Linked DNA regions of Homo sapiens: region 1 is linked to region 2. The links come from fine-mapping of genetic effects on gene expression. A gene starts in region 2. The other region holds a variant in brackets. All regions are shown on one strand. Distances are from middle to middle.

Region 1 (15,595 bases), 54 kb before region 2:
TGTTAAGAATGCATGTTGAATAGCTAGTGTAACAAATAAAAAAATAGATTTAGATAATACAATTTTCAGATAAGTAAAGGGGAAAGAATGAAATGAGAAAAGAAGAAAAAGATACATTCAAAAGATGGCAAGAAAGAAGAGAAAACATGACTAAAAAATGCAGGATAAATGGAAAGGACATAATAAAATGGAAGAAATAAATCCAATTCTATACATAATCACAAAAAATATAAGTAAACCAAACTATACAGTTAAGGACAAAGAATGTGTGAATAGAGTTTTAAAAATTTAGTTATATGCTGTTTATAAGTGATACATTAACTCTAAGAACACAAAAACATTCAAAGTTAGAAAAAAATTTAAAAAATGTACTAGGCCAATACTAATTTTTAAAAAGTTACTGTAGCTACATTCATGGACAAATTAACTCTAAGGAGAAAATAATTTTGAAAGAACAAGAGGATCACTTGGGATACTACTATACCGATTTTGACACCACAGGTGGGATATCACAATTCTAAACTTGTATGTTCCTAATAAAACAGCCTAAAAAGTATGTAATACAAAAATTCGACAGAACTACAGGGAGAAGTTTACACATCTACCATCATAGTGGGAGGTATCAAACACTCTCAATAATTGATTGATCACGTGGGCAAAAAATATTGAGGCTATAGATGATCTGAACAACACATTTAACATAATCTGTTGACATAGATGAAGCATTTCAGGTAGCAAAAGCAGAATATACAATCTTTTCAAGTACATATGGGATATATATATATAAAAAGAACACATGCAAGGCCATAATACCAACTTTGTATTTGAAAGGACAGGCACCAAACAAACCGTATTTCTTGACCACAGTGCAATTAAATAAGGTATTGACAACAAAAGGAACTAGAAACACCTGCATTTTGGGAAATTAAAAAAAATCTTCTAAATAATTTATGGGTTGAAATCATATTCATATTGGAAATTGGAATGTATTCTAAATTGAAAAATTATAAAACTCTACTAAATCTTGTGAAATACAACTCAAGCAGCACTTGGAAGGAAGTAGGAAGCCTCAGTAGTCTTATAAGCATTACAGAAATTGAATTAGTGGTTTTTAAATTTCCTATATAAAACATAAGGCAAATTCTAATAAATGTTTACTGTATATATAGTTCTGTAGAGAATAAAAGTGAACACTCTCCAATTCATTCTATGAAACTTAGCATAATCATGAAACCAAAGCTGTATACAAATGAAGAAATGTGGACTAGTTTTCCCTATGAAAAAAGGTTGCTAAAATCATAAACCTACCACTCAAAGGTTAGTTTGTGTACCTGCAACATAGGCAGCACCTAGGAGCTTTTTAAAAAATGCGGATTCTTGGACTTTACCCCAGATCTACTGAATCAGAATTTTAACTTCATCAAAATCTACAGGATATTCTTATGTACATTATAGTAGGTGAAGCTTTGTACTAGCAAACTAAACCCAGAGATGTATTAAAATACATATCACTAAGTTAAGTTTACCCAACAGTACAAAGCTGGTTTACTACTGTAAAGCAATTTGTCATATTAAGAGAGTAAAGGAGAAAACCTTAGGATTGTCTTAGTAGATTCAGAGTGTTGAGTAAAATTTAAAATCTGTTAATAATTTTAAAAAAGAGCTCCAAGAAAACTAAGAATAATAGAAATTATATTCTTGTATTACTGCTCTCTTTTCAGCTACATTGATTCTATTTTTTCTATTTCTTTTTCAATACCACACTGCTTGAATTATGTTAGTGCCATATTGGCAGGGAAACAGAAAATGAGAATGTAGGTTATGTTTATTATGGTATTTCGAATCAGTAGACGAAAGGGTGAACTTACTATATAGTGTTGAAATTGGTTACTATTTAGAAAAATTAAAATGAGCTATCTCCTAGAACATACTTTTAAAATCTCAGATCAATCAAAATTATACATTTAAAAAGCCAAACTATAAAAATATAAGGTTATATTTTTATAATCTTTGGTTGAGCAAAGCCTTTAGAAAATATAAAAATCTACAAAGCTAAAATGAAAAATATAAACTTTTTTACTACAAAAAGTTTAACATTTATGTGTGACAAAACATACCATAGAAAAATTAAAAGGCAAATAGCAAACATGTAGAGTTTATATTTAGAATATAATGAAATTTCCACTAAGTAATGAGAAAATAGAAAGTGTCCAAAATAAAAATAGAAAGTGATCAAATTATGTGACCATGTAGTTGAAAAACAAAACAAAATGTATAGAACAAATATGAAAAATTGCTCAAATAACTAAATGAAAAGGTAGACATTAAAAGAATAGTAAAACTTTTTTTATTCTATCAAATTGGCAAAAATGTAAAAGGTTGTTACATTCAGTATTGACAAAAATGTGGGAAAGCTGCCACTCTCAAATTTTGTTAGATGAACTTGTAAACTGATAATGCCTCAGTAAGATGTACACTTTTAGGCCAACATGCTCATAGTTATGCACAGCGACATCAACATAGAGATATTTGTTGTAACACTTTTGTAGCAGAAATGAAAATGAATTTCACCCAATGTCCTTCAACAGGGTCATGGCAAAGCAAATTATGAGTCCTACATACTATGAAATTCTATGTAGCTGTTTCAAATGTCGACTAATAAATATTGATGTGGAAAGTTCTCTAAGACAGATTGCTAAGTGAAAAAAATCAAATAACAGAAACATGCAATCCTTATATCCATTTAAAAAGTACATATGCATAAATGTATTTAAATGCAATGCATAGACAAACACCAGCAGGATCATACCAAACAGTTAACAGTGGTTGTTTCTGAAAAGGGAAATGTATTGATGTTGGGAAGGTGAAGAGAAAGATGTAACGGAGTACTTCCACATTTTACTTAGCACACTTCTCTATAATTAGAGCATCTACATAATTTACCATCCAAGCCAGAAAAATTTGGAGTAAAAATACCTGCTGTTAATTGCTCTGGGACACCAGACATAAATTAGAACTGTTCTGGGCAAATGAGGTATATGGTCACATTATCTATAGTAAGAATATATTCATGATTTCATCGTTGAATTTTAAAAATCGGTGGAGCTTTGCCAACCACTGTCTAGAGTTGGGATTAGCAAACCACCTTGGACTGGACTTTTGTAATTATGAGAAACAAGGCTTGTGTGGCCACTTTTATATTTTAGTGTGAGGCCACACTAAAGGGGAGATATACCTCCCCCTGTGGCTTAGCAAACACTTTCCTTACCTTGGTATATAGAGCTCTGAGGATGGAATAGACCAATTTGTATAAAGAGCTCCGGGCCTTCAGGGAGGGAAGAGCCTGGGGCCCCTAAGCCATTTCCTCTAGATACAAACTTAGTAACTCTTTGCTGTTGTCTCTGGCACAGCCCTGATGGAGATACAGGCAAGCAAGAACTCACCCTGAAGTAGAAGGGCTGTTGGGTCTAGGCTGTCAACCTCAGCTTAATACAAGGGCCTGAAGCTTGTTCCACAGAGACTGGTTCTAGTGTAGGCTGTGGCGGAAGACATCAGCTTCTCTGGTACTGACCAACCTGGCACAGTTTCATGCCTTGGGATTCAGAGCTGAACACCTGAGGATGAACTAGTAGAGCTGTTAACGCTGGAATCCTGGCTAAGGTACCCCAGGCAGTGACTGTGAACTGATTGGATGTACCCATATGTGCCCATCCACCGTACTTTGAAGTTTAACTGACCATTCTGAACTGAGTAAGCACTTGAGATTCTTAGACAGTGGGGGGTGCAGGTGGGGAGAAAGACATTAGGAGGGAGAAGCTGGACTTGCTGCTAATAAAGGCAGTGGTGGTCCTGAGCGATGAATTTATACCTTTAACATGTCAAATGACTCATACGGATTATACTTTTAAAAATGACCATTGGGCCAGGCAATTTGGCTCATGTCTATAATCCCAGCACTTTGGGAGGCCAAGGTGGGAGGATTGCTTGAGCCCAGGAGTTCAATATCAGTCTGTCTCTACAGAAAATACAAAAATTAGCTGGGTGTGGTGGCGCATGCCTGTGGTCCCAGCTACTGGGGAGGCTGAGGTGGGAGAATCACTTGAGCCCAGGAGGTCAAGGCTGCAGTGAACCGAGATTGCACCACTGCACTCCAGGCTGGGTGACAGAGCGAGACCTCGTCTCAAAACAAACAAACAAACAAACAAACAAACAAACAAATAAAATAAATAAAAACAAAGATCAGCCATATGTCACCCCCTGTTAACCTGTGTTGATCCTTGTAATTGATTTAGGCATTAAGAAAACATTAAGAAAGAATCAAAGGAGGTGG[G/A]CCAAGGGGTGGAAGGAATTTGGAGTAAAGAAAACAGGGAGGGTTGGTGATGCAGCACACTCTACTCACGCGGCTGGTGTGTGTTCCAGTGTGTGTACTGCACCGGCTCGGGTTTCTGCCCTACTGGCTTCCAAGTGTATTCTCCCGTATCATTTTGGTCCTGAAGAGCTATCCAAAAATAACTGTCCTTCATTTTTACCACACTACTGATCAAACTGGTAATAAAAGCCTGTTCAAACCTTAAAAGGGGAAAAAAGAAGTGGTTACATTAAGTTTCTGGGCAATAAAAAAATGTCATTAAAGCATAATGAAGTGCACAGAATGGCCCCAGAGTAAGCATTTCTCATCAATTCTTTAGAACATGGAACAGGAAAACACCCAAAGACCCTGAACATTACTAATAAATGCCGAATGTCAGTGCAATTCCCAGAACTATATGAGTGAGCAGAATCTGACTCTTGCATATGGGGCTTAATTCTTGCACAGAATAGAGAGTCCAGCTCCAGTTTCAAAGCATAGGTGGTAAAGTTCACATGGCCAGCAATGCATTTCTTGGAGTACGATGTGGCCTATTTTGTAATTAGGCCACACACCACACACACCATGCCACAATATGCACGGGGTAAAGGTGGGCAGGAGGGAGGAGGAAAGATATTATGCTTTTCTGAATGAGCATTTACTAATACAGAGTTCACACACACCCACCTACCTCACTTGCCTGGTGAGAAAGAAACAGAAATTAAAGTAGCAATTTTATGTCTCCCAAATCAGTGTGTTCATAGGCAGAGGTAGGTCTCAGCTTATTCAAATGTGTTTAAATCTGCATGTTCACTGAAGAAAAATGTGAAAGCCTAGGAACTAATCTAAGGCCGTACATCCACTAATATACTTCCCAAACAGCTGAATGAATTACTGTTCAATGATTGGTGGCAGTGCCCCCTTTCCAGTATGAATGCATCAAAAGCAGAATATAGAAGACTCACATACATGCTTCCACATGCACACCTACTAAGAAAAACATGACTATTAAAATTTAACTAGCATTGAACCTTTCAGCTAAGTTGAAACTATCTTGAGAAAGCTATTTTTAGAACATACAAAGTTAGAAGAAGCACATTTGAAACAGTGGCGACTTCTGGGCAGACCTGCTGAGTCAATGGAAAAGGAAAGGCTGAAGCCATTACCCAGGAAACCTAAGGAGAAAGCAAATTAGATCTTTTCATTCAATTTTGGTGGCTTTTTTCGTTACTGTGCATCCTTAACTTGCTAAGGGAAGCAAAAGCAATGAGGTCATTTATGAATAGAAGAGTCTCAAAGGAAATAGGAGATAAAAAGAGAAAAGAATAAAAAGAAGTAAAAATTTTAAGTGCCTTACAGATATTATTAGCAACATTTAGAGATCTTAGGTATTTATGGTACTCATCTTTGCAGGGGATATGGATTTTCGTCATACTTTAGTAAATATTTTCTGCAGATACTCTATTAATAACCTAAATAGCACACATTTGAAACAAGAAAAGTTCTTTTTTTAATCCAGATCATACTGGCAGAACCTTATATAAATGTGCTTCAAAAGGAACATATAGAAGACTAAATATTGCCTACATGCTGTTGTAATTTTCCTTACACTTCTGTTGGTTCATGCTCTCAATAATATACGATCTGCTTTTCTCTATCTCCTCTGAGGCAGAGTAGTAATACCGGGTCAGGGAAGTGCTGGGAGGAGAAGGGCGGGGTCCCTGGTTAGGGCTCCACCCCCAGCCTCTGCCCCCAGACCTAGGTGAGGACAAGCATTTCTGTTTTCATGCCCAAATGTTGCATTTCCCAAGACCACCCTGGCTTGCCACACCCCCATCCTGTGCTTGTAAAATCCCCCGAGGCCTTAGCTGGAAGACAGACAAGCGGCTGGACATCCAGAGGAACACACCGGTGGAAGAGCACACCGACAGGCACTGGCAGATGCCGGCAGGCCGTCGACAGGAAGAACGATGTGGAGTTTGGCCAGAAGAAAGTTAAGAAAATAACTCCACTTACAATAGTGCCCCCAAAATACATGGGAATAAACTACACAAAGACTTGTATACTGAAAACTTGTATACTGAAAGGTGAAAGACTTGTATACTGAAAACTGCAAAATGGTGCTGAAGGAAATTAAAGAAGCCACAGAGAAATGGAAATAAATCCCGTGTTCATGCCTTGGAAGACTTAATATTGTTAAGATGCTCATACTACCTAAAGTGATGTATACATTCAATGCAATCCCTATCAAAATCCCAATGATATCTTTTTCAAAAATAGAAAAGTTCATCCTAAAATCCATATGGAAATTCAAGGAACCCTGAATAGCCAATATAATCGTGAAAAGAAACCAAGTTAGAGGTCTGACACTTTTTGATTTCCAAACTTACTACAAAGCTACAGTAATCAAGACAGTGTGGGCTGGGCATATTGGCTCATGCCTGTAATCTCAGCACTTTGGGAGACTGAGGCAGGCAGCCTGCTTGAGCCCAGGAGCTCAACACCAGCCTGGGAAACATAGTGAGATCCTGTCACTACAAAACATAAAAAACATTTGCTGTGGGTGGTGGTGTTAGATGCCTGTAGTCCCAGCTACTCGGGAGGTCGAGGCGGGAGGATGGCTTGAGCCCAGGAGGTCAAGGCTGCAGTGAGCTATGACTGAACCACTGTACTCCAGCCTGGGTGATAGAGTGAGACCCTGTCTCAAAAACAACAAAAACAAAACAAAAAACCAGTGTGGTACTAGCATAAACACTAACGCATAGGCCAGTGGAATAGACTAGGAATAAACCCTTGCATATATGTCAAATGATTATCAAGAATGGTGCCAAGACTGTTCAGTGCAGAAAGGACAGTCTTCTCAATAAACTGTGCAGGGAAAACTAGACAACCACTTGCAACAGAATGAAGTTAGACCCTTACCTTATACTATGCACAAAAATGAACTCAAAGTAGATTAAAGACCTAAACATGAGAGCTAAAACTATAAAACTCTTACAAGGAAACACAGGAAAAAGACTTCATAACATTGTATTTGGCAATGATTTCTTGTATATGATACCAAAAGCACAGGCAACGGAATAAGAAATTAATAAATTGGACTTTATAAAAATTAAAAACTTTGCACATCAAAGGACACTATCAACAGAATGAAAAGGCAACCCACAAAATGGGAGAAAGTATTTGCAAGTTGTACATCAGATAAGGGATTAATATCCAGAATATATTAAAAATTCCTATAACTAAACAATAGAAAAGACAAACATCCCAATTAAAAAATGGACAAAGGACTTGAATAGACATTTCTCCAAAGAAGATACACAGATAGCCAATAAGCACGTGAAAAGATGTTCAACATCATCAATCACCAGTGGAATGCAGATCAAAACCACAGTGAAATACCACTGCACACCCAATAGGATGGCTATTATCAAAACAAAACAACCAGATAATAGTAAGCATTGGCTAGGATGTGGAGAAACTGGAACCTTTATGCACTACTGGTGGGAATGGAAAATGGTGTAGCCATTATGGAAAAGAGTACAGTGGTTCCTTAAAAAATTTAAAATCAAATTATCATATGATCCAGCAATTTCACTTATAGGCATACATGCCAAAGAATTGAAAGCAGGGACTCGAAGGGTATTTGTACATTCATGTTCATGGTAGCATTAGTCACAATAGCCAAATGGTGGGAGCAACCCAAATGTCCATTAATGGATGAATGGATAAACAATATGTGTATATACATACAATGGAATATGAATTAGCCTTAAAACAGAATTTCCAGAAACGAAATTCTGACACTACAACATGCTAAATGAAATAAACCAGACACAGAAAAACATAATTCCACTTATATGAGACATGTAGAGTAGTTAAACTCACAGAGACAGAAAATAGAATAGTAGTTGCCAGGGTCTGGGAGGAGGGGAGAATAGGCAGCTATTGTTTAATGGGTACAGAGTTTCAGTTTGGGAAGATGAAAAAAGTTCTGGAGATGGATGATGGTAGTGGGTGAACAACAATCTGAATGCAGTTAATGACACTGAACTGCACACTGAAAAATGACTAACATGGTGAATTTTACGTTTATGTGTGTTTTACGTATATTTTACCACAATAAAAAAAATATTAACTGCAAAAGTGTTTTGGGGAGATATGACAGTTGCAGGAAAACGGTAGAGCTGTAAAAATGCTTTAAAATAATGCACATTTAAGCTTAGGAGGGGTATAGTGGCTCACACCTATAATCCCAGCACTTTGAGAGGCCGAGGCAGGAGGATTGCTTGAGCCCAGGAGTTCAAGACCAGCCATGGCAACATGGCAAGAACCTGTCTCTGTAAAAAATTTTAAAAAATTAGCCAGGCATGGTGGTACATGCCTGTAGTCCCAACTACTTGGGGGGCTGAGGCAGGAGGATTACTTGAGCCCAGGAGGTCAAAGCTGCAGTGAGTCATGAAGGCACCACTACACTCCAGCCTGGGCAACAGAGTAAGACACTGTCTCAAAAATAAATGAAAGTAAAATAAACTTAGGAGAAAATGAGATATTGCAGAATTTCTCACTTTTGGCAAAATTCACAAAATTGAATGCCATTTGGATTATTTTGTACCAATATTCTATGGCTGATTGATTCAAAATTTAGACATACATGGATTTAGCCAATTATCCATTATAATTTTGGAACTCAACTTTTGCATTCATGCTTTGTCTGGAAGCAAAGTGGCCAGGCCTGAAAAAATTTTGTAACAATCAGCAAGCAAACAAAAATTTGTTACTCAACAATAAGGATCTGTTTTTCTTCCCCTCTCTATTCCACAAAGTGTTAAAAGTCTTAGACCAGGAGCAGTTGCCTGATCACAAAAGAAATAAGTAATTTGTAGCAGGTGGTTCTAATTGTGCCCATCAAACCTGTCATTCCATTGTGCAGAAGAGTGGAAAATCGATTAGCAACTACAAGCTTGGGTACTGAAGAGTGACAGGAGTGTCTTAAACAGGAAATCAGTAATGGAAGAAAATGATTACCATGGCCACTAGTGGACACTCCTGGATCTGAGACACTTTCCATCTACTGCCCAACCTTCTCAGACAAAAGATGCTGTTTGCAAAAATTCCAACGTGTATGGTGAATCAAAAGCAGTACAGTGTGGACCCTTGTTTCTTCCCTGATGGACTCTGAATGATTAAAAACCAAGAGCATTGGCCCTTTCTTTCTTCAACTCATGAGTCCTGTGTTGGAGTTGCTGCTTTGAATGTAGACATGTTTTGGGGGTAGCATAAGTATATGTTAACTGACTTGGACAGATGACACATCCTGCTCATCTGTACTCCCTCAGGGCTTGGCGGGTGACCAGGCAGCACACCAGCACAGGGCAATCTGGACAGGCGTAGGAGGCCAAGACTGGGATAAAAACAAACTTCTCTATGCCATAGTTCTGCTTTACAGATGGACCAGGCATGAGCGCTGGCTACTGAATACAGTTTACCAGAGAAAACATTTAAAGTATTCACAACATAGTCTTGTATCCAGTTTTGGGGAAAATGAAACAGATTTTTTTCCCAGATACTTTCTGTCATTTGTATGAGGTCCCCAAAGGGTTCATGGAATATGAAGCATTTGTTCTAACAGATTTCTGCCTTAGCTTGGGTCACTGTGGCACTATGGGTTATCTGTAATGTCACTGTGAGTTTATCCATTTATTGTGCTATTCTACCTTCTTCACTTATTTCTTGTGTCTATGTTCGATCTCTTCAGCTGCTGGGTTTCAGAAAGCACTGGACAATAATAGCATGCCTTTTATTTCTTGTGGATAGCATGTCAGTGTTTAATATGGGGACTCTCACAAAACAGGTATTCAAAAAAAATTTTCTAATAAACTCTTGGCTATTAATTTTTTGTGTGGTCAGATAACATATGAAAAATAATTAACACAGTGCCAGGTATGTGACAGGCACTCAATGAACATTAAACAAAAAAATAAAGAATAAGACATAAAAAACAGGTGAAACAATTGGACTTATTTTCTTTGGTAAAAAACATAATTAAATTGTAATTAACAAAAGAGCGTATAGCTTCATTGGTCAGCCTCCTGTGAAGTCCAGTGTTGACTCACTGACTGGGGGACTTCCAACCCAAGGTGTTCTTGGAACCTTTTGGGTGAGTTAACAAATTGATAAAGGCTTTCTTCTGCCTGTTAGCCAAACCTGGGAGGAGAAAGGTAGAACTAAAAACAATGCTGAGATACATCAAAGGTAGTGCTATATTTCAACGGGAGGATCTCCTGAAAGTAAAATGTTTCACCAGGTGACTTAGTCTGCCAAATGCTATCAATCCATTTGAGTGTGTGTGTGTGTGCGTGTGTCTGTTTGTGTGTGTGTGTATGCATTCCTGTGCATTGTTTGGAACAGAAGCTGGGTAAGAAGGCAAGAAAGAGGGTAAGAGGAGGAAGGACATACTGGCAGCTTTGGATGTTGACTTCCAATGTGGGAGGAGCAGAGAAATCATACAGGAATTCCTCTACAAATTAGGCTTATATGGGAAGGGTCTCTAGGTAAAACCAGTTGTCCTATTTGCTGGTATTCAGTGAATATTTTTAAAGGCAATGGCCCAGGTAAATATGCAAGTGACTTGCTTTGCAGGTGTAGTTTCCTGTGGCACCACTGGAGTTCTACCCCGCTTCTGTCTTCCCCAGGAGGAGTGGGTCTCCCAGGTGTTCCAGCCCCCACTGTCCTCCTGGCATCGATACTAATATGAGGTCACCTTTACTCTTGGTATTTTTATCCCCTACAGGTATTATGCATCGGTACCATGGGGCAGATTGTATGGAGTGTAAAAAGGGCACAGTCTCTGTGCCAGCATCAGGAAGGCATATGTGCACAGAGAAGTCTCAATCTAAATAAAATAGATGGAAGAAGTGATGGTGAAGGATTTGAATATCCTCCACATTTTATAGCTTTTCTGCTAAAAACACCCCCATACAACTCACATACATTACATCAAAAAAATACTTGTTAAATAATGTGTTTTGGCTGGGCGCGGTGGCTCATACCTGTAATCCCGGCACTTTGGGAGGCTGAGGCAGGTGGATCACTTGAGGTCAGGAGTTCAGACCAGCCTGGCCAACATGGTGAAACCCCGTCTCTACTAAAAATACAAAAATTACCAGGGCGTGGTGGCAGGTGCCTGTAATCCCAGCTACTCATGGGGCTGAGGCAAGATAATTGCTTGAACCTGGGAGGTGGAGGTTGCAGTGAGCTGAGACTGCACCACTGCACTCCAGCCTGGGCAACAGAGCAAGATTCTGTCTCAAAAAAATGAAAAAAAATAAAATAAAAAATAAATAACGGGTTTCATTTCCCATATAAGCAGTTAGAAGATAAAATCTAAAAACATCTGAATATATTAGAAAAGCTGGATAATTAATAAATCTTTACAGATAGTAAAGGTCACCTTAAATTTTATTATTTATTACTCAAAAATCAATTCTGGAATAACATAGTATAATTTAAATTCATCTCAATAAATAACTTAAATAATTTAGTACTTTGATGTATAGCACAATTTAGATTTTGAACAGTTATGATTGTAGCTAGATTTTATCATTCCAAGAGTCCTCATGTGAAAGCCGTCTTGTTTCTGTTAAAAAAAGTTTAATTTACCTGTTTGTAATGGTTACAAGTGCAGGAGGACAGTAATAACCGCTGGAAGCTTGGTCAAAGCTTCGAAGGACTGTGTCAATTTTGTAACAGAATCCACCATGTCTCTCCCATCCCTTAAAAAGAATAAAAGGGAAATTAAGGACACAATCTCATTTAGTTAAATACCAAGAGATATTTTTGCATACTCTTTTACCACCTACATAACTTTCTTCTCTTACTCCTTTAAAACTCCTTGAATTTTTGTCTTGATATTTTTATATTTATTCTATCCAGTAATGCCATTAACTACACCCACTTCTACATTTATTTAATTTATTATCTTAAAACCTAAAATTTTTAATTAACTTAAAACGTAAAACCTTAAAAGTAAATGAAAATAAAGGGCATTCATTCAAGATCTCTACCTCTCTCTTTCTCTCTCTCTCTCTCTCTCTCTCTCTGTCTCTCTCTCTCTCTCTCTGTGTGTGTGTGTGTGTGTGTGTGTGTGTGTCTCTCTCTCTCTGACTTACAGAATTTCATATAAATGGTCCCGACAGGAGGGTAGAAATTAAGTGTTGGCTCTAGGGTCAGGATGCATGGGTTTGAATTCTGGCTCCACTACTGTGCAACCTTGTTTAATATCATAGTTTTTTCATCTATACGATGAGGATAATAATAGTATTTATGGGGTTGTTCTGAGAATCAGAGAAGGACAATACAGATAGAGATTTTAGAATTGAACAGAGGGGAAAGAGAACATGAACAAAGAGAATATATGTATCTAGATAATATTAGAGATTTTTTTCAACTTTCATATTGATTATTTCATGTTATCCCTCTGAGATTCATTGAGATTAGGGACTTGGATAAAGTCAAACTAGTGGATCAGTTGGGCCTGAAACCCAATTCTGGAACAGTCCAGGATGGTCTTGTTTGGAGCATAATGCTTCCAAATAGAGAATGGCCAATATATGTATTTTTTCTTTTTCTTTCTTTTTTTTTTTTTTTGTAAAGATTATTCCTAAATTAACTGGCTGGCCTTTTGGAGGGGAAGAAAGTAAGCTTTGGCACTCAGACAAAAATGACAAACATGTAGGTCTATGTTTTAGCCCTGGGAACAACGAAGGGTGGCTCTTCCTTTGAAATCATGCAGTACAGTCTATGGCCACACCACCCTGAATGTGCCCGATCTCATCTGAAATCACACAGTATGGTAAGACATACATTCATTAGTCCTCTATATTTAAACTGAGCTATTTTAGTTCTTTTTTCCCCAATATTATTAAATCACATCATTTTTATCTATTTTAATTTATTCACCAGTTTTAAAACACTCTTCATTTTATGCTATGCCAATTCTTGCCAGCTTTTGATCAGTTATAAAATGATTTCTCATAAATTTCTTGGAAAAGATGTTGGTCTTGCAGTAAATTAAAGAAAACCTTAATTTAGAGATCAGCTGTGTTAGTTCAAACATATCATTAACTGAGGTAGGAAGCACAGGAGCTCCCACATCCAGCCATCTAGGATCTGCTCTGAACTCACTCCCCTTCACTTCTATTCCCAATCTTCTCTCTGTGAGTAACTGACAGCTCCATACAGCTCCTTCATGCATCCCTCCAGGGTAGGAGCAGGGATATTAGACTGCTCCTGTACTTGGAAGGACAGGGAGAGGGAGGCTGGCAATTTGACCTTTCCGATAATGTATTCTTCTTCATTAGCAGTTTTTAGATCATAGGCTGCTTAGCAAAACAAACAAACAAAAAAATCCAATAACTGAACCAGCTCAAGAAAAGGGAGGGAAAAAAAGATCTGGCATAGAATAATCAGAAACACAGACTTGTTACTTCAAGACTTTGTCCACACAATGAATACGGGAAGGATAACTGATTATATCAGTTAACCCTTTGTACACTAGGTGCCATTTCATTTTTAAATGAAAGGATGGTGGTGACAAAACTGAAGGAATTGCTCATATTGTCCAATCCCAAAAAAGTGACTCAGAAGGAAAAACAAATCACTTCTTTTGCTTTGAAATTATCAAGATTGATTTTACAAATTGATTTTTCAAGTGCAGACTGTTTAGAGAATTGCATTGAAGCAACTTTCTAAAAAAGAGAAAACTTTCAAAACCATATTCATAGACTGATGCATAATAAAATTACTGGAAATTTCCTCACAAAGCTAGAGAATTGGCTATGAACTCAGAAACTTTAAATACTGGTAATGCTGGCTGGAAAAGGGAAGCCATGAACAAAAGTTTGAATAGAACATCAGTTCTGTATTTGCAGTGTAAAAAGTTAATTGTCCTTTCAACAAAAATAAAACACGCTGAGTTTCCCAGAAAGCCACAGTAAGACAAATCCCCCCACCCTCGCCCCTGCCCCGTCTTCAATATTTCATATCAGGTAGAGATTAATCAGAGATCAGCTATAACTAATTCAGAGATTATAATCATTAGATAAAATGGTGACATGTCAGCTACGGCATATCTACTATCCAACTAGAGTATGAAGTTCACATGTTTACACATTGATTAATGAATAAAATGAAGATTCTAAGGGGATGGGTCATTGTTCAATTGCAATACAAATAACTGGATTAGAAGAGAAAATAATTAAAGCATAGTTGCATAAAGACCAGGTCTGGAAAACTGTTGAGACTGATAAAGCATAGTTCACTCTGACTCAGAGGAACACAATTGTTTTATGACATCTCACTTGAAAACTAGGAAAACCATAAGTCAGGCACAGTGGCTGAAGCCTGTAATCCCGGTACTTTGGGAGGCTGAGGCAGTAGATCACTTGAGGTCAGGAGTTCGAGACAAGTCTGGCCAACATGGCAAAATCCCGTCTCTACTAAAAATACAAAAATTAGCCAGGCGTAGTGGCGCACGCCTGTAATCCCAGCTACTCGGGAGGCTGAGGCATGCGAATTGCTTGAGCCTGGGAGGTGGAGGTTGCAGTGAGCTGAGACTGTGCCACTGCACTCCAGCCTGGGTGACAAAGCAAGACTCTGTCTCAAAAAAAAAAAAAGAAAAAGAAAAAGAAAAGAAAGAAAGACTAGGAAAACCAAGTGTGAGACAGGGCATCACACATCACAGGATAGTCACTGTACAGATGCTGTATCAGGACCATTTACATTTTTAATCTCAAAAGAAAAGTAATCCTGTGTAGAAGATAGCAAGACAACATTTCTCAGGACAGGAAAAAAAAGAGGAAAGGAAAGAAGGGGGGGGTGCGAGGAGAGAGAGAGAGATGAAAGAGAGGAGAGAGAGAGAGGAGAAAGAGAAATTCACTTCAAATTGATGGTGGAATTGATATTCTAGCTATGAAGTCCCTGTACCTAAATTGCAATGTTAACAGCACTTACCTCTTGACATCCTGATTCAGCATCAGAGAGGACATGGCCTGCTTTTTTACAAATGTAAAAAAGTCTTTCTTCACAATTTTTGACTTTCCAGTGTCCCTCCTACGGAGAAAAATGTTACAAGAGAATGAATACACTCTGTGCTGATACCGATGGGCAATAGCAATTCTTATAAAAAAAATATGATGAATAATGTGCTCCCGCGTGGGATAATGTTTCAGGCGGCACTCTGCTTTG
Region 2 (15,595 bases):
TGTAAAAGAAGGGTATGTATTAATGTTGCCTACCTGTTTTGGTGAGGAGACAATGTGTCGATGTAAATAAAACAACAAAGAGTAACGACTCCCCAGCTGTTAGAAAATACTAGAAGCAGTAGAGGGGCATTTTTACCTTTGTATTAGAAACAGAAGCTATGCAGGAAATCTCAGGGCTACAGCTTCTCCCCACTGCCGCCTCCAGGTAGTGGCTCTCATCGCCCTCTTTCAGAAGGTGGCAGCTACCCCCCTTCCTCGCCACTGGGGCCCTCTGCCCTGAACCATTCTTCCCCCCATTCACCATGGCTTTGATACCAGCAGACTCCCCGCTATTCTCCACACCCCAAAGCCACTTTAGCTTCCATACAGATGACCCAACACTCTGACTCGATGCTTTCCCCACTGCAGGTTGTGGCCCATTTATGGTCTTGAAATCAACTGAATGTGTTATGACCAGCGAGACAAAACGAAACAGAATGGAACAGGGGGAAATGTAGCAGCATGTCATATTAGGTAAGGGTATTTTTTAAAAAATGAAACATTGTTTCAGTTATACATATGTAGACCTATATGCTGTGGGTTGTGATGTAAAATGTATTTCTTATTGTGGTTTGCTGACAAAAGAGTCCCAAACTCTACTCGACTTTAGCTTTGCTCTGGACATTGGGCTCCCTGACCTCCTCTGCTGTGAGGACCTTCTTTTGCCTCTTCTTCACTTTGGTGACCACTCCCACAAACACAGCTTGGATCTGGTCACTACCAAGAATAGGTCCATCTCCAAAACTTGGATTTTGCACTCTATAACCACTACCTCTCCTATTCTGCAATCTTCCCTCATCTAACTTTCACTAACTGTTTTCTTTTGTTGTTGTTTTTAAATATATATTTTCCTCTTTTTAAACCCTGTTTCTTGAACCCAAACTTTCTGCTCCTCAATCTTCCTATTGGGACTGACTTAGCTCAGCTTTAACTATCCAGACGGTTTCTTTGCTGCCTTCCAGAATTACCCTCTTCAAGGTGATAGGAGACCCTCTTCAAGTCCCAGACTGAACATGGCACTTCTAAACTTAAACATGCAATCTGGTTCCCCTTTGTGCAAACCCACAGGGCCCTTCTCAGCAGTACCCAATTCACTCAGCCAGACTTTTTCCAGAAGCAGGGTGCCTCCAACCAAACTCTTCCTCATCTCTCTCATGCTTCCAACTATAGACATGTCACTGCTTCTTGTTTTGCCTGGGACCCTACTCTGGTGGTCTATACCATCCACAGCCCTGGATGAAGCAGCATCCATCCCTGTGTCCACCTCCTGCCTCTACCATGGCCAATTAGCCAGGGGAAGGCCTTCGACTTGAGGGCAGAGCACAGGAACTAGCTAGCATGCTGTGAAGAATGTAACCAGACCCCTCTCCTAGGAAATTAAGGGACTCTTCCCAGGAAGCTAAGGGAGCTACAGAGGAAAGTCCTACTAGTCAAAGCCAAAGAAACAGTCAACAGAAAGAACAACCAAGCAGGAACCACCATAGAGCCCCAGAGACAGAGAGAAACAGATAAAGTAATGCTTCATGTCAGTGGCCAGTGCCTGTTTCCCAGGAGGCCTGGCTGCCCTGAAGAACCTGTCCTGGGTCCCCCTTGAGATCCTGGGACCATTACAACCAACTCCACGTTTGCCTGAGTGACCTTCAGTGGGCCTCTTTCCTTGAATCCAAAAGAGCTCAGAAGGGAACTTTCAGCTCACTGAACTTTTACTGTTGCCTGACACGTGATCCTGGGCCTTTGCACATGAAATACATGTTCCCAGGAATGCTCAGTCTCCTTTTTCCTATATGGTAACTGCCTACTTATCCTTTAGGAAAACAAATGTCTTTTTATGAGCCTCCAGCTCCCCAGGCCAGTGCCTCCTCTGCATGCCTTCAGCACTTTGCTCATCCCTGGTTATCATAAGACCTCTCTCACTGTTTTGTAATTGTTTATGTTTCTGTATCTGTCCCTGGACTCTCAGCCTCTTGGGGCCAGTGTCATATCCTACTCATGTTTTTACCTCCCCAATCTGGAGGTGGGTAGCAGATTCTGTTGGTTTCCTTCTCACACCCTCTAACCTGGAGCTCACTCACCTGCAGACAGTCCTCGTGCACTCCCACTGACTTTCTGTGGCTCTCTGCCTGGGAGAGACCAGGAGCACCAGGGGGTGAATGCCCCAGGAGTGACCTTAGTCAATAAGAGGCGGGAGTTGGTGGATAAATACTTCAGCTTCCTGCCCGTTGGTGGGTCCACTGAGTTCTATACAGTTCCTCAAAGGGTCCTTTGTGAAACTGAGCCCCAGTGGTCTGTGGTGGCTTTCTTCCCTCTCTGGTCTCATGTCCTCACTCCCTTACCATGCTTTCTAGAATCACCTCCAAAAAAAAAAACTACTTGCACCCTAAGGAAAACATGTCTCAGGAATTGCTTTTGGATGAACCCAACTAAAACAGGTAGATAAAGCACATATTGCCTGACAGATAATGAACAACTGAGGCCATCAGCCCCTACCCCTCTTTCCGTCGGCGCAGCATGTCGAGAGACACCCCGTACACCCAACCCTGTTTCACTTTCTTCTCCCCAGATAGGACCTGATGGCAAGCACACTGACCACACACTCATCTGCACCCTCACCTCCTTTGATCACTGGTCATTTAGAAGAGCCTCCCCTGAGTGTCCCCAGGCACTGACACAGACTTAGGTTCTTTCCACTCCTGCTCTGGGAAGCTGAGCACTACAGAAGGAAACTCTCCTACGATATATTAGTGGGGGACCATTTCACATTTATCATTTTTCAACCCTCAACAAAGCTTCAAAACCCTTTTACTTGCCCCCTGATCATTTCCTTTAGCAATGACTATGCCCAGTTTTCACCAGGATGCTCCATCCCCTTCTTCTTTCTCCCCGCTGTCCACTTTGTATCTGGAGTACTTGAGTGAGTGAAGTTAGTGTGTCTTAGCACTTGCTAGAAGAAGGGCTCAGATTCTGATCAGGGAAAACAAACTAAAATCAGGCTCCTTGGAATAACCAGCTAGAGCAAAGGTCCCCCACCTTTTCTGCCCCAGGCACTGGTTTCACAGAAGACAAATTTTCCACAGGCCAATGGGGTGGTGGGGTGGGGGATGGTTTTGGGATGACTCAAGTGCATTACATTTATTGTGCACTTTACTTCTATTATTATTACATTGTAATATATAATGAAGTAATTATACAGCTCACCATAATGTAGAATCAGTGGGAGCCCTGAGTCTGTTTTCCTGCAACTAGACGGTCCCATCTGGGGTGACGGGAGACAGTGACAGATCATCAGGCATTAGATTATCATAAGGAGCTCGCAACCTAGATCTCTCACATGCACAGTTCACAATAGGGTTTATGCTCCTTTGAGAATCTAATGCCACCACTGGTCTGACAGGAGGTGGAGCTCAGACAGTAATGTGAGGGAAGGGGAGCAGCTGTAAATACAGATGAAGCCTCTTTTGTTCACTGTTGCTCACCTTCTGTTGTGTGGCCCAGTTCCTAACAGGCCACAAACTGGTAGGTGGCCTGGAGGTTGGGGATGCCTGAGCTAGAGGTAGGAGGAGATGAGTTTCAGACCTGCCAAGTACAGTGCTGTGCACCGTAGTAAGTAATTGTTATGGGGCTGTCAACCTGTCAAAATGTCTGGATTGGCCAGAGGAAGAGGGTGCCATGGTGAGAGAGCAGCAAAAGGACAACACTTAGATGTGTACTATTACTAGCTCCATTTTACAGATGAGGAAACTGAGCTACTGACTGGCAAAATACCTGTCCAGGGTCACACGGATGGTAAATGGCATAGTCAGGATTTGAACTCAGATCGTCTAGCTCTGAAGCCCGAGAACTTAACTACTATATAATACTGTATCTACTGACTTTTGAATACAGAATTGTATTACTCCATTTTCACACTGCTGAAAAAGACATACCCAAGACTGGGAAGAAAAAGAGGTTTAGTTGGACTCACAGTTCAACATGGCTGGGGAGTCCTCAGAATCATGGTGGGAGGCGAAAGGCACTTCTTACGTGGCAGCGGCAAGAGAAAGATAAGGAAGAAGCAAAAGCAGAAACCCTTAATAAACCCATCAGAGGTTGTGAGACTTATTCACTATCACGAGAATAGCATGGGAAAGATTGGCTCCCATAATTCAATTACCTCCCCCTGGGTCCCTCCCACAACACGTGGGAATTCTGGGAGATACAATTCAAGTTGAGATTTGGGTGGGGGCATAGCCAAACCATATCAAGAATTATTGATAAATCATTGGAAAATCATCACAGTACAATCCATCATCTGCCTCCCAAGGCTGGCATGCTTGTAATACATATCAGATCTACAAATAATACATATCAAACAATTCAGATAAAAAATGCTGTATGTATAATCTGCTGTGCATTATTACATAGCCATTATTAGTGGATTGGAAATGAAAATGAGTGTGCATTTTTCTCTCAGTTGCTCTGTGGATGTCAATCGTGGCTAAAGTGAGTCAATGTGGTACAGTGAACACAGCGGTAAACTGAGGCACCCCAAAGCATGGCTAACTACATGGTAGCCATACCTCAACTTCCACATCTGAAGAATAGAGGGCTAGAGTAGACAATGTCTCAGGTTCTTTTCAATGTTAAGATTTTGTTTTTCCATTTTGTATTGACAGTAAAAACTTGACTTCAAACCTGTCCAGCTTACACTTGAAATTCTACTCATGCAGGTGACTGGAGTCAGGGAGAGAGCCTGTGCCTGTGCGAGGAATGGTACATAACCTCCGTGCTCCTTGGAAAATCAGCAGCAGCATTTTCATATCTGAAGAATCTCTATGCCAACTATGTCAACCTTTTCAGATGTGCAAATTGCACCTAGTAGGTACAAGGGCTAGCAGATGGCTCTAATTTCAGAGTGCCCTTGACTACTAAAAAGAAGGCACTGATGAGAATTTGTCTCAGGCCAGTATTTGGTTCTGCTACATATAGAAGGGATTAGCCCTTCACTCGGAGGATCACCAGCACATACTCTCTGTGTGGCCCAGTCCAACTTCTGTCCTGTGGGCTGCTGCCCTGTTCTACCACCTAGTGCCCAGGCAAAACCCACATTTTAAAATGCAAAGGAATAACCACTGCATGGTAAACTTAGTGGGAAGGAATCATACATACTACAGGATCAGATGTGCATCCACAGGAGCAATTTTCTGAATTGACCAAGAAGGTAAGAGCATCTCTGACTTTGGTCACTTTAGAATAAGAATGGTCTTGTTCTACCTGCCCCTGATTAAGCCTCCAGGGAGCTTAGGAAACACAGTCTAGAAAAGACTACCTCAAAAATGTAGACATATTCTACTGTGGAGGAAAAAATGTGAACGCAGATATTGATCACATCTTGTGTTACCCCTTCTCTCCAAACTTATCTCCAAAGGCAGAGAGGATGGAGGCTGTCTGGAGGCTCCTCCTGGCATATTTAACTCCCTCCTGTCCCCCTCCTACTTGCATATATGGACTTCTGCACTTAGGCGCAGGCTTCTCTGCCTGAGGTGGCCCATTCTCAAATGCGGGCCCCTGCAGGCCAGAAATCTCTCCTCCCTCTCTTTACACAACCTTCTGAGTCTCATGTGTAGTAGGTGCTCAATAAGTGTTTGCTGAATTGAACCCCGTTTTTCCACTGAGAGAGACTAAGGCATAAAGGCTTCAGATCACGCAGTTCATGGAGCCACTGGGGCTTCTCTCCCTCACCTGGCCTGATGTTTTCAGGCGGGGTGCGGTGGGTCAGGCCTGTAATCCCAGAACTTTGGGAGGACGAGGTGGGCGGATCACTTGGGCCCAGGAGTTGGAGACCAGCCTGGGCAACATGGTGAAACTCCGTCTCCACCAAAAATACAAAAATTTTGCTGGGCGTGCGGGCGCACACCTGTGGTCCCAGCTACTCGGGAGGCTGAGGTGGGAGGATCGCTTGACCCCGGGAGGCGGAGGCTGCAGTGAGCCGAGATCCCGCCATTACACTACAGCCTGGGCGACAGAGCAAGACCCTGTCTCAAAAAACAAACAAACAAAAAAAGTTTTCCTTAAGGAAGGGATGGACTGGGGAGGCCTGGCTTGGGGGTCACTCCTAGGTGGCGACGCAGACCCTGAGCGCTTGCTTTGCAAGGGGACGAACTGAGCCATCTTTTTGCTATCATTTATCCGTCCCAAATAAGCAGCTCTCAGAAAGTTTCCGTTTTGAAACTTCTCCGACACTCCTATCCCGGGCTGGCTCCGGGCGCCAGAGCCGAGAGGAGTTACCTGCGAGACCAAGCCCCCCCGCCCCCGCCGCCCGACCCCCGCAGGAGCCAGGAGGGTGCCGGGCCGCGCAAGTGGGGTGCTGGGCCTAGACAAGAGGCTGCAGGACACCACCCGCTCCCCCCATGCTCAGGACTGCTGACACACGAACCCCTACAAACGCGGCCGCCCTTGCCCGCCAGCTTGGCCCCTAGCTTCGCCCCTTCTTCCTCTCCTTCGACCACCCCGACCCCCCTCCCCAACGTACCGATCCAGTCCCCGACCCTGGGAGACTCACCCTGCCACTCCAGGAGCCGCTCGGGGGTAAGCGCCGCCGCCACACCCTCGGCGCAGCCCCGCGGCGCCCCCAGCAGCAGCAGCAGCAGCAGCGACGGCGACAGCAGCATCGCTAACCACTGGGCTCTCCGGGAGCCCCTTGTCCCGGGAGCCCCTTATCCCGGGAGCCCAGAGCCGCGTCCCAAGCACCCGGCCCCGCCGCGCGGAAGCGGATCCGTAGCCTCCTCCGCGCCCCACCCCCTCCGGGGGCCTTGCCAGCCCAGAGCCCTGGAGACCCACTCCGCCACCGCTGTCTCCACAGTGAACCGACACTCGGGGCTCTGGGCTGGGATGCGGGAAAGTCGCGGAGGTTTTCCTCGCCCCACCCACTGCGGCTTGGGGAAGGAGGAGGAGGAGGGGTGGGCCATCTGCCCATCCCAGAAATTCCTGCCTTTGGGGTGGGGACAGGCGGAGTGAGGCTGCTCGGGTCACACTCTCCGCTCCTCTAGCTTGCAGCCCTGCTCTCTCCTTTCTGGGGGAGGCCGAAGAGGAGTTGTGGGTGAGCGATTTGAGAATCTCCGGGACAAGGAGCCTGACATCCGGGTTTGCAAACCACCTGGATTCTGGTAAACACCGCGGATTTGCAGCGGGCAGCCTAGAGTGAACCCAGCTGCTCCGCGACGCAGGCGCTTTGGGAGGGTCCTGGACTCCTTTGACTTGTGGAGCACTGGAGACACCTGAGGGGCCACGCCGTGGTCTCCACCTTCCTTGCCCCAGAGTAACCCGGAGATTCTTCTATTCAGCTCCTTCGGTTTTGAAATAACCTCCTCTTTCCAACTCCTTTGATCCCCCAAGCCCCGCAAAGTAGCCGGGGTCCCTATTATCCCATTTTTACAGCTGAGAAACCCTGCCCAGAAAGTCGAAGTGCTTTGCTCTAGGTTACTTCCTAATCCAGCAAAAGTTACTCTCTAGCAAGTAGGACAGCCCTGGCTAGAATGTAGTCGTTCTAACTGTCCTCCTTCAAATAACCAGCAGAACACTGGAAGCGTTTAATATTCTGAGAACAGGCTCATATAAGACCTTTCCTCAGCGGGACCTTGACATTAGTCATTAAAACATAAGAGAGGGGGAGGGGAGGGGCAGAAAGCAGAGCCTGGAAGGAAATGCCTAGCAGGGAGCAAGATTGAAGGTCAGAGCCAAATGGGGAAGAAGGGAAAGTGGTTGCCTTGGCCATGGCCTTAACAAAAGGTGCTCAGTCCTGCAGGAACCTCAGAGAGCCTCAGAACTGTCTGTCGAGGACAAAAGGGGCAAGCGTTTATCCATGGACTTTATCCTTCCCTGTTGGTAAGGGAGATCCTAGGGTTATTAACTCCTCTGCACTGTTCTACAGCAGTGGTGAGTTTCAGTCATGGTCCCATACCTTGTCTCTTAGAAGCCCTGGGTGCATAGCATGGCAAAAGGTGAGGCGCTGTCAGGTTGTTTCTCAGAGGGTTGGGGGGTGGGGGACAGCCGGGGGAAACAGGCTGCAGAGGGGGCTGGAATAAGAGGTGGGTTGAGAGGATGTGAGAGGTTCCAATGTGTGTAGAGTTTATAACATATCATTACATGTAGAATTCAGCATCCTTGCTTGAAAACATGCAGAAAAGAGATGCTTTAAGCCTAGTAGATTACACAGACTTCAGCCACAAACTATGTATCCATCTCTCCTATGGCCTCAGAACTACATTGCTATGGGAATATCCCCGTAGTATTATGATAGAAGATTTGGCCCTGCCCGAGCAGGCTGGCATGTATTGCAGCAGGCAAGTGCAATGCACATGACATAATTAGGTCATAAAACAGGACACTGATGCTAATCTCTGGTGAGGTCCAGGGCAGTGAGAGTAAAGGGGAGAGAGACTAGGCTGGAGTGGGCATAGAGGCCTAACTATGCTCAGATAGTATGGTGGGTATTGGGAGGAAGAGGCTGTTCTAGGATGGGAAGAAATTGTGAAAAAAAAAATTATACAAAGGTTGGAGTGAGAACTGCTTGTATGGGAGAGAGTGAGGCATGCCTGGCTGAAATAAAGGCAGCCACTGGGGCACCCTGACGAATGAGGACAGTTGCTGGGACATTGGGCTACCTCTCACTGGCTGTGGACCAGGGTGAGTTATTCACGTGCTATGGTCCTGTTTTAGTCTCTGTATAATGAGGGGGGAAAATGCCTCCCTTGACCCATAGCAGATGCTATTCTGAAGTAGCAGAGCTAGGTCTGTGAGTAGGATAAGAAGGGAGAAACAAACCTTATTTCATCTTCAGAGCAATTAGTATAATGAAGAGAGGTGTTGACAGCTTCCTGGCCTACCAACCCCGTATTTTCTATTCAACCATTAGAACACTCAGAAAAGAGCTACTTTTTCTTTTTTTAAAAAAAATCTCTTCCTGAAACACTGCAGCTTTGAAATGGAAATCTGTGGTAAAGGGCTTTTTAACCTTCAAGAAAATGACCAGCACCCATATCCTGGGCTCACGTGTGTTTCAGGTTCATGAGGCAGTGTAGGGTCATGGTTAAATGAGGCAGCTCTGCCACTTACCAGCACACCACTTAGTTTGCCCCAGCCTCAGTTTCCTTCTGTGTAAAATGGAGATAATAATGTTTGCTTCATTGTGTGGTTGCATTAAATGAGCTAATGTATGCAGAGTGCTAGCACAGTGCTAACACACTGTAAAGTTCACCTCTGGGAGCTGTGGGTGTGTGGGGAGGGAGTGAGGAGCAGAGAGCAAGAGCAAAGGAGAGCTCAGAAGCCATGCTACAGAGCACTGTGCTAGTGGTAATTATGGCTCTGGACTTCAGCTGGGGAACACAGCAGGGAGGGCTCAGTGCCTGCTGGCCTTTGTACAGCTTCCCATTGCTTCCCTTCTCCTTTGGAGTTGGAATTCATTATTTATATCTCTCACCTGAATGTGAGTTCCAGGGCAGCACACTTCCTGGCACTTAGTCATCTCTCAGTCTCTGCTGAATGAGCGAAGGAATGAGGGAGGAAAAGAAAGAGGTTGAAAGAAATGAAGTCAGTCTTCACTTAACGTCATCTATAGGTTCTTAGAGACTATGATTTTAAGCAAAATGGCATATAATGAAACCAATTTTCTTTTTCTCATCAATGTCATAATGAAATCACAGTGAAGGAAATAATGTTGTTTGAGGACCTGCTGTATGTCATTTCACTTAAAATTGCAGTTTCCAAGAACCTGTCCATGGTGTTAAGTGAAGACTTACTGTACAGTGTGTGGAGTGATTTGAAACTTGAGAAAAATATTAAAACTTTGAATGGTATTGACAGTAAAGAAAATGGGATTTAAAACTCAATGTATAGGTTGCGGTTTGTCAAAATTAACAAAACTTTTTGAGCACTGTATGAATCAGGGTATCAGCAAGAAAGGGTGAGGTCCTGGTTTGTTGAATGTTTACCCAAGGGACTGTGAACCCCCAAAATTTGAGATGGGCCTCAGTTAATTTAGAAAGTTTATTTTGCCAAGGTTGAGGACACACACCCGTGACACAGCCTCAGGAGGTCCTGATGACCTGTGCCTAAGGTGTTCAGAGCACAGTTTGGTTTTATACATTTTAGGGAGACATGAGACATCAATCAATGTATGTATGATGAACATTGGTTTGGTCTGGAAAGGCGGGACAACTTGAAGTGGAGAGCGGGGCTTCCAGGTCATAGGTAGATAAGTGACAAGTGGTTGCATTCTTTCAAGTTTCTGATTAGCCTCTCCAAAGCAGGCAATCAGATATGCGTTTATCTTGGTGAGAAGTCTTTGAATAGAATGGGAGGCAGGTTTGCTATAAGCAGTTCCCAGTTTGACTTTTCCCTTTAGCTTAATGATTTGGGGGGCCCAAGATATTTTTCTTTCGCATTTCCCCCCTTTTCTTTTGAAAAATCTTTTGAAGGCCGAGCATGGTGGCTCACACCTGTAATCACAGCATTAAGGGAGCCTGAGGCACGTGGATCACCTGAGGTCAGGAGTTCAAGACCAGCCTAGCTAACATGGTGAAACCTCGTCTCTACTAAAGATACAAAAATTAGCTGGGTGTGGTGGTGCACGCCTGTAATCCTAGCTACTCAGGAGGCCGAGGCAAGAGAATCGCTTGAACCTGAGAGGCAGAGATTGCAGTGAGCTGAGATCATGCCACTGCACTCCAGCCTGCATGATAGGTGCATTCTCTGTCTCAAAAAAATAAATCGTTTGGAGCAAATTAGTCTCTGGTTCCAGGTTTAGTCTTTTATCTGATATCTCATGGCTAGGATGATTTATTCCTAGACAGGTAGGTCCTGAGTTATTAGGAAAGCTCATTTTTAGAAAGTTGTAAAGTCTCATGTCCTATGAAGAGAAAATAGGGGGAGGAAGGGAGAACAACAACAATAAACAAAAGAAATATTTTGGAAAATCAATGTAGACCACATTACTCTGAAGTCCATACATCAGTAGGCAGGTATGAAAGTGGCTTATGTATGTAAATAGGTTTTGCTGTTATTTTCTTCTGAAGTTCAAGTTGTCTAGTTTCAGTTTGCAGAGCTTTACAAAAGCACAGCTTTGTTTTCAGTGACTCCAAATTAGGAAAAATGGGGGGAAAAGGAAAAAAAATTAAAAACATTATTTTGAAAACTTATAGCCAAAAAAAATTAGAATTCAGTCCAAACTGTAGAAAATAATAAAACTGAAAAACATCAGACAAGACTAGAATCTAACAACAGGTGTACTACAGTTTTTGAAACATAATTTTTCTCTCTCCAGTTTCCCATTTTTAAAGACAAATCATGGTAGGACTGATTTGCTTTATTATACTTATCCTAATTATTTGCATACTGTGCAGCAAGAATAATTATTTTTTTACATAGGCTTTTAAATTGTCTTTGGTGGGACTTTATTCCATAGAAGGAATCTCAGATAAGACTTTTTTAAAGCCGAGCCCAGCCGTGAATTTGTGCCACCTAATACCTGTGAATTGGGTGATCCTTTCCTCTTGAGGTTCCAAGATAAACTTGGAGCTCCTGGGCCTGTCAGAAAGTAACATTCTTTACTTACCACAGGTCAGGAACCCTGTACAGGGAAGGTATGAGACCAGTTTCCCCAAGGGCTTTTATTGACTCCATAAGTCAAGTTTGATTCCTTAAAGGAAAGCACACCATTAAAGCCTTGGTAAAATAACCAATGTCTCCAATTGCGTCCTGTTGCAAAATGAAAACAGATTCTTATTGCAGTTATGCAAATAACTGTATTGCCATAAGTTAAGAATACTCACAGATAGTTTCCAAATTCTGGAGAAATCAGGTAGAGGGAAACAGATATGCTCCAAATTGTGTTCATAGGAGTATACTAAATTGTTAAAGCTGTCAATAGCTCAAAAGAAAAGTTTCCTTGACTCTGAAAAAAGCAGAACAAAGGATCAGCAACATTTAAAGCAAAAATCAAAAAATTAGTCTTCTATCAGTTCAGTTTACATAGTTAACTCCTGTTCTGCTTGATATTCATGAACATTTTAGCTCTCCATGAGAGTCCTGAAAGTTTTTCCTCTATTCTAATGTCACAATCTCCAAAGTTATCAGAAACCGGCATTTAAGAACACCTGTTAGACTTTTATAGCAGATTAGAAAACCACCTCCTAAAGAGGACCAAAACAAGACAACAATTGTCTGTGGATGACAAAAAATTTTAGGGCAGCCATGGTCAAAGACACAATTGACAAGGAAATTTGTTACATCTGTGGCACACAATAATTTAACATAACAATTATAAGTATTACTGATAATATACAGTAAGTCATATCAGAATTATAGGAGTTCCCATGATTTTGGAACAGATACCATATATTTATATAAATACAGCCTAAAGAAAACCAAACACCATTTCATCTTTGACAATGTTTCCTGTATAATATTTATACCAGACAAACCAAACTATGTCATCTTTGAACTTTAAGGAACTTAATATCTTAAAGGATTGATTAGGTTAGAAAAAGACATAATTTATAATTTGATTTTGGAAAGTTCATCAAATATCAAAGGTTTAAAGCCCTTGATATCACAAAATAAGATCATTCATTTAACCAAAGTGATAACTCAAGGATTTAAAAAGGCAAAAACCTTCATTCTTTGAGAAAGGAGACTTGACATTCCAAACAATAAGCTCTAATAAAAACAGCATGAAGCCAATTAAATTTGTTTTTTGAAATTTTATAAATGATCTATAAAATTTTAATCTTGACCGTAAGATACAACTTCCATAAGCCTTTTATAACCTTTATTGAGGAGTCAGTTAATGCTTCAAGAAAACCTTGTTAATTTGACAAAGGGGCCAATATGCTAGTCTTGCATCACTGCGCCTTTAACATTAATTATTACTTTTTAGAGAAACTGAACTTATTTTATCTTTCAAAATCAGCCCTTAGAATCTCACATGCCCACCTTTTCCATGATAGTTCCTGGGCCTTGAGTTGAAATAGCTTTAATTTCTGGTCCTGTGTCTTAGGAATGCAGTTTATTTTGATTGGCATCTCCTACAGGGCCTGAAAATGGGGCTTTAATTGCTGTCAGTGTTTAAAATGTAGTAGGAGTTGTTGTCCTTTTTAGACCCAGGAGTCAAAGCCCTGTAACTCAGTGTCACAAGTATTTTAAAAGTGCATATGGAGAGATGAAAGATAGATGGATGTAATAACCTTAATTAAAAAATTTTAATCTCAGTTTTTTTCCTAAGCAACCCAAAACTTAAATAATAATATGACAACTTGATCATATAAAAGTTTTTGGTTTTTAAAAAAATAAATCCTCTTATTGTGACTTACATAGACCATTCATGACATGCTTGTACTTTCTGGTTTGTTTTGAACATCCCTCTTTCTTAAGCAACTAGTCATTTTACTCTAGGACTAAATTTACCATACGAGATTCTTTCTCATATGAAATTATTTCCCTTTACGCTTTCTCACAAAAAAACCCCTCTTTATTTTAATAACTTTCTGTACATCTCTTTTATTTCCTGGTTCCTTTTACCTTGTTTTATACATGACCTTTAAATAAGCTTTGAATTAGATAAAAATTGTTCACCTTTTTTTTTAAAGGACACATTTGTTTTGAATGTTTTCCTACAAATATATTTTTATTGGAAAATACCCAAATAATAAAATATATGTGATTTAATTTGATATAACTTTAGATTCTAAATTATGATGAGCTTGTCTACAAGTATTTATCCTATTATATTTACCTAATAATTTTTTTGTCATTTACTTAGAGTATTTACAAAAACCGTGATTGTCATTATTTAAAGTTACAGAACCACCATTGCGAAATTGTAACTGAGAGAGTGGAAAAGATTTGACCTGACTGACTCCATCTTACTTCTAACCTCCAAACTGTTCTGTTCATTCCTGGGCATAGGTCAAACTAACTTTGGGAGGAACTTAGTTGATAGTTTAGCTTTAAAACAAAGACTGTGACAGTCCTTTCCCAAAACAAACCTTACTGCCTGTAGAATGGACCACCTAAAGCCACAAGATTAGAAGATATGGTAATCGTACTAAATTCAAGATGTAGAATTTTTTATTAAACCAATATCAATATCTTATTAAAGATTACTCAAGCAAAGGTCTTTCTGATTTGGGCTGGGTGTATAGTTTTATAACCCCTATGCCAATTTTTGACAACTTATAGTATTTGGCAGGGAAAAATATGAAATTGCCTGATTTATAAATGCAAACAAAAACGTATGCTGGCAATTCTTAAGACATTTCTAACAATACTTTACCAATAATTGTAAAGCTAACTTATTAAAGATTTTACTTAAGTTACATAAGCTTGAAAAAGCATTTGACTAGTCTTTTCTTTTATCCTGATAAAGTATTTGATTCAAGTGCTTTTATTTTCTTAACCCAATTAATTAGAGGTTTTTTATATATTTTCAGTAGTGAAACATTGTGTACACAACAAATAAATACAAAGACATATTAGGCATGCTGATAGAAATACATCTTATAGATTCATAAAAACCTTTTTTTTTCTATCTTACACTTTCAGATTCTAGATAAACTGTTTCACAGCCCTAGGCAGTTGTCAGCTAAATAGCCTTAAATTTGCATTTAAAGGAAACAACCCAGGTGAAAACCAAATAGCAAAATTTATGTCATAAGGTACAGAGAGAAAATATCTGGTGGTCCTAGAGGGATATTAAAGATGGATGCCAAATCAGACAAAAAATTATAGAAATCTATCACAGGATTGTATAAGAGGACCAATTTTGTCTACATAGGGACTACCTATCTTTTAACAGGATCTCTGAGCTCTGGGCAAAGCTCACACTGAATCCTGGGTCTCCAAAAAGGAAGAATTATTATGAGTTTAGACCATGTGATGCTTTTACAGTGCACTTAAAAAAATTTTTTTTTAAATAAAGACATTTCCAAGTGTCTGAACAAACCACACTCTTCCTTAAAAAACCAAGAGTAACCTCTGCTGCAACAACTATTTTAGGCAAAACACACACACACACACAAAACAACCCAAACAAACAAACAAACAAACAGGAAACACAATACAAAAGTAAGCAGTTTAAGAGCTGAGACAAACTTGTCTGTTTTCATTCTTGTGATTCCATAAGGCAAAACAGGTTTCTCCCCTAAAGGGAGCCTGCTACCTTCTCTATTTTCTTTATGGAGCCCCACACTGCTATAAACTGTTTTAGGTACCCCATACAGCAGAGAGTGCAAAAGAAAGGAGAGACAACAGAAGTAAATGAAGAAAACAGAATTCAGGCAACTGAGAAGAAAAAACTTTTGCTCAAAAACAGACAAAGTCCTAGGAGAAAAACAAGAAGAAAAACATGAAGGCATTTTAAATACAAACACACACATATGCACACATACACACACACACACACACACACACACACACACCTTGGATGTTAGCTTTCAATTAAGCTGACTTTTAACCATTGAGCTTCTTTAAAAAAAATCTTTTTAAGTTCCATTACCATATTTCAGCTAGAACAAATTGCTGCAAT

Direction of the effects. Alleles are on the strand shown, and positions count from the first base shown. SD is a standard deviation of normalised expression in the study named.
In carriers of allele A in region 1, the expression in thyroid of the gene that starts at base 6,898 in region 2 tends to be higher than with G alone (small effect, 0.34 SD a copy in GTEx).

What was found.
Region 1: its variant is fine-mapped to the expression of PLA2R1 in thyroid (GTEx, PIP above 0.99).

Annotation. Positions count from the first base shown.
Region 1 is chr2:160,001,253-160,016,847 of GRCh38, forward strand. It overlaps PLA2R1 (phospholipase A2 receptor 1), which reads right to left. Exons shown (of 30, transcript NM_007366.5): 9 at 15,362-15,460; 10 at 12,011-12,123; 11 at 4,400-4,569. Among named protein-coding and RNA genes, the nearest start is that of PLA2R1, 54 kb to the right of the region's middle. The variant G/A (reference allele first, on the strand shown) is at 4,331.
Region 2 is chr2:160,055,718-160,071,312 of GRCh38, forward strand. PLA2R1 (phospholipase A2 receptor 1) reads right to left here and starts at 6,898. Exons shown (of 30, transcript NM_007366.5): 1 at 6,578-6,898. The coding sequence starts at 6,686. LOC105373717 (a long non-coding RNA gene) reads left to right here. Exons shown (of 3, transcript XR_007087274.1): 2 at 409-513; 3 at 4,746-5,084. RefSeq lists an enhancer at 1-178.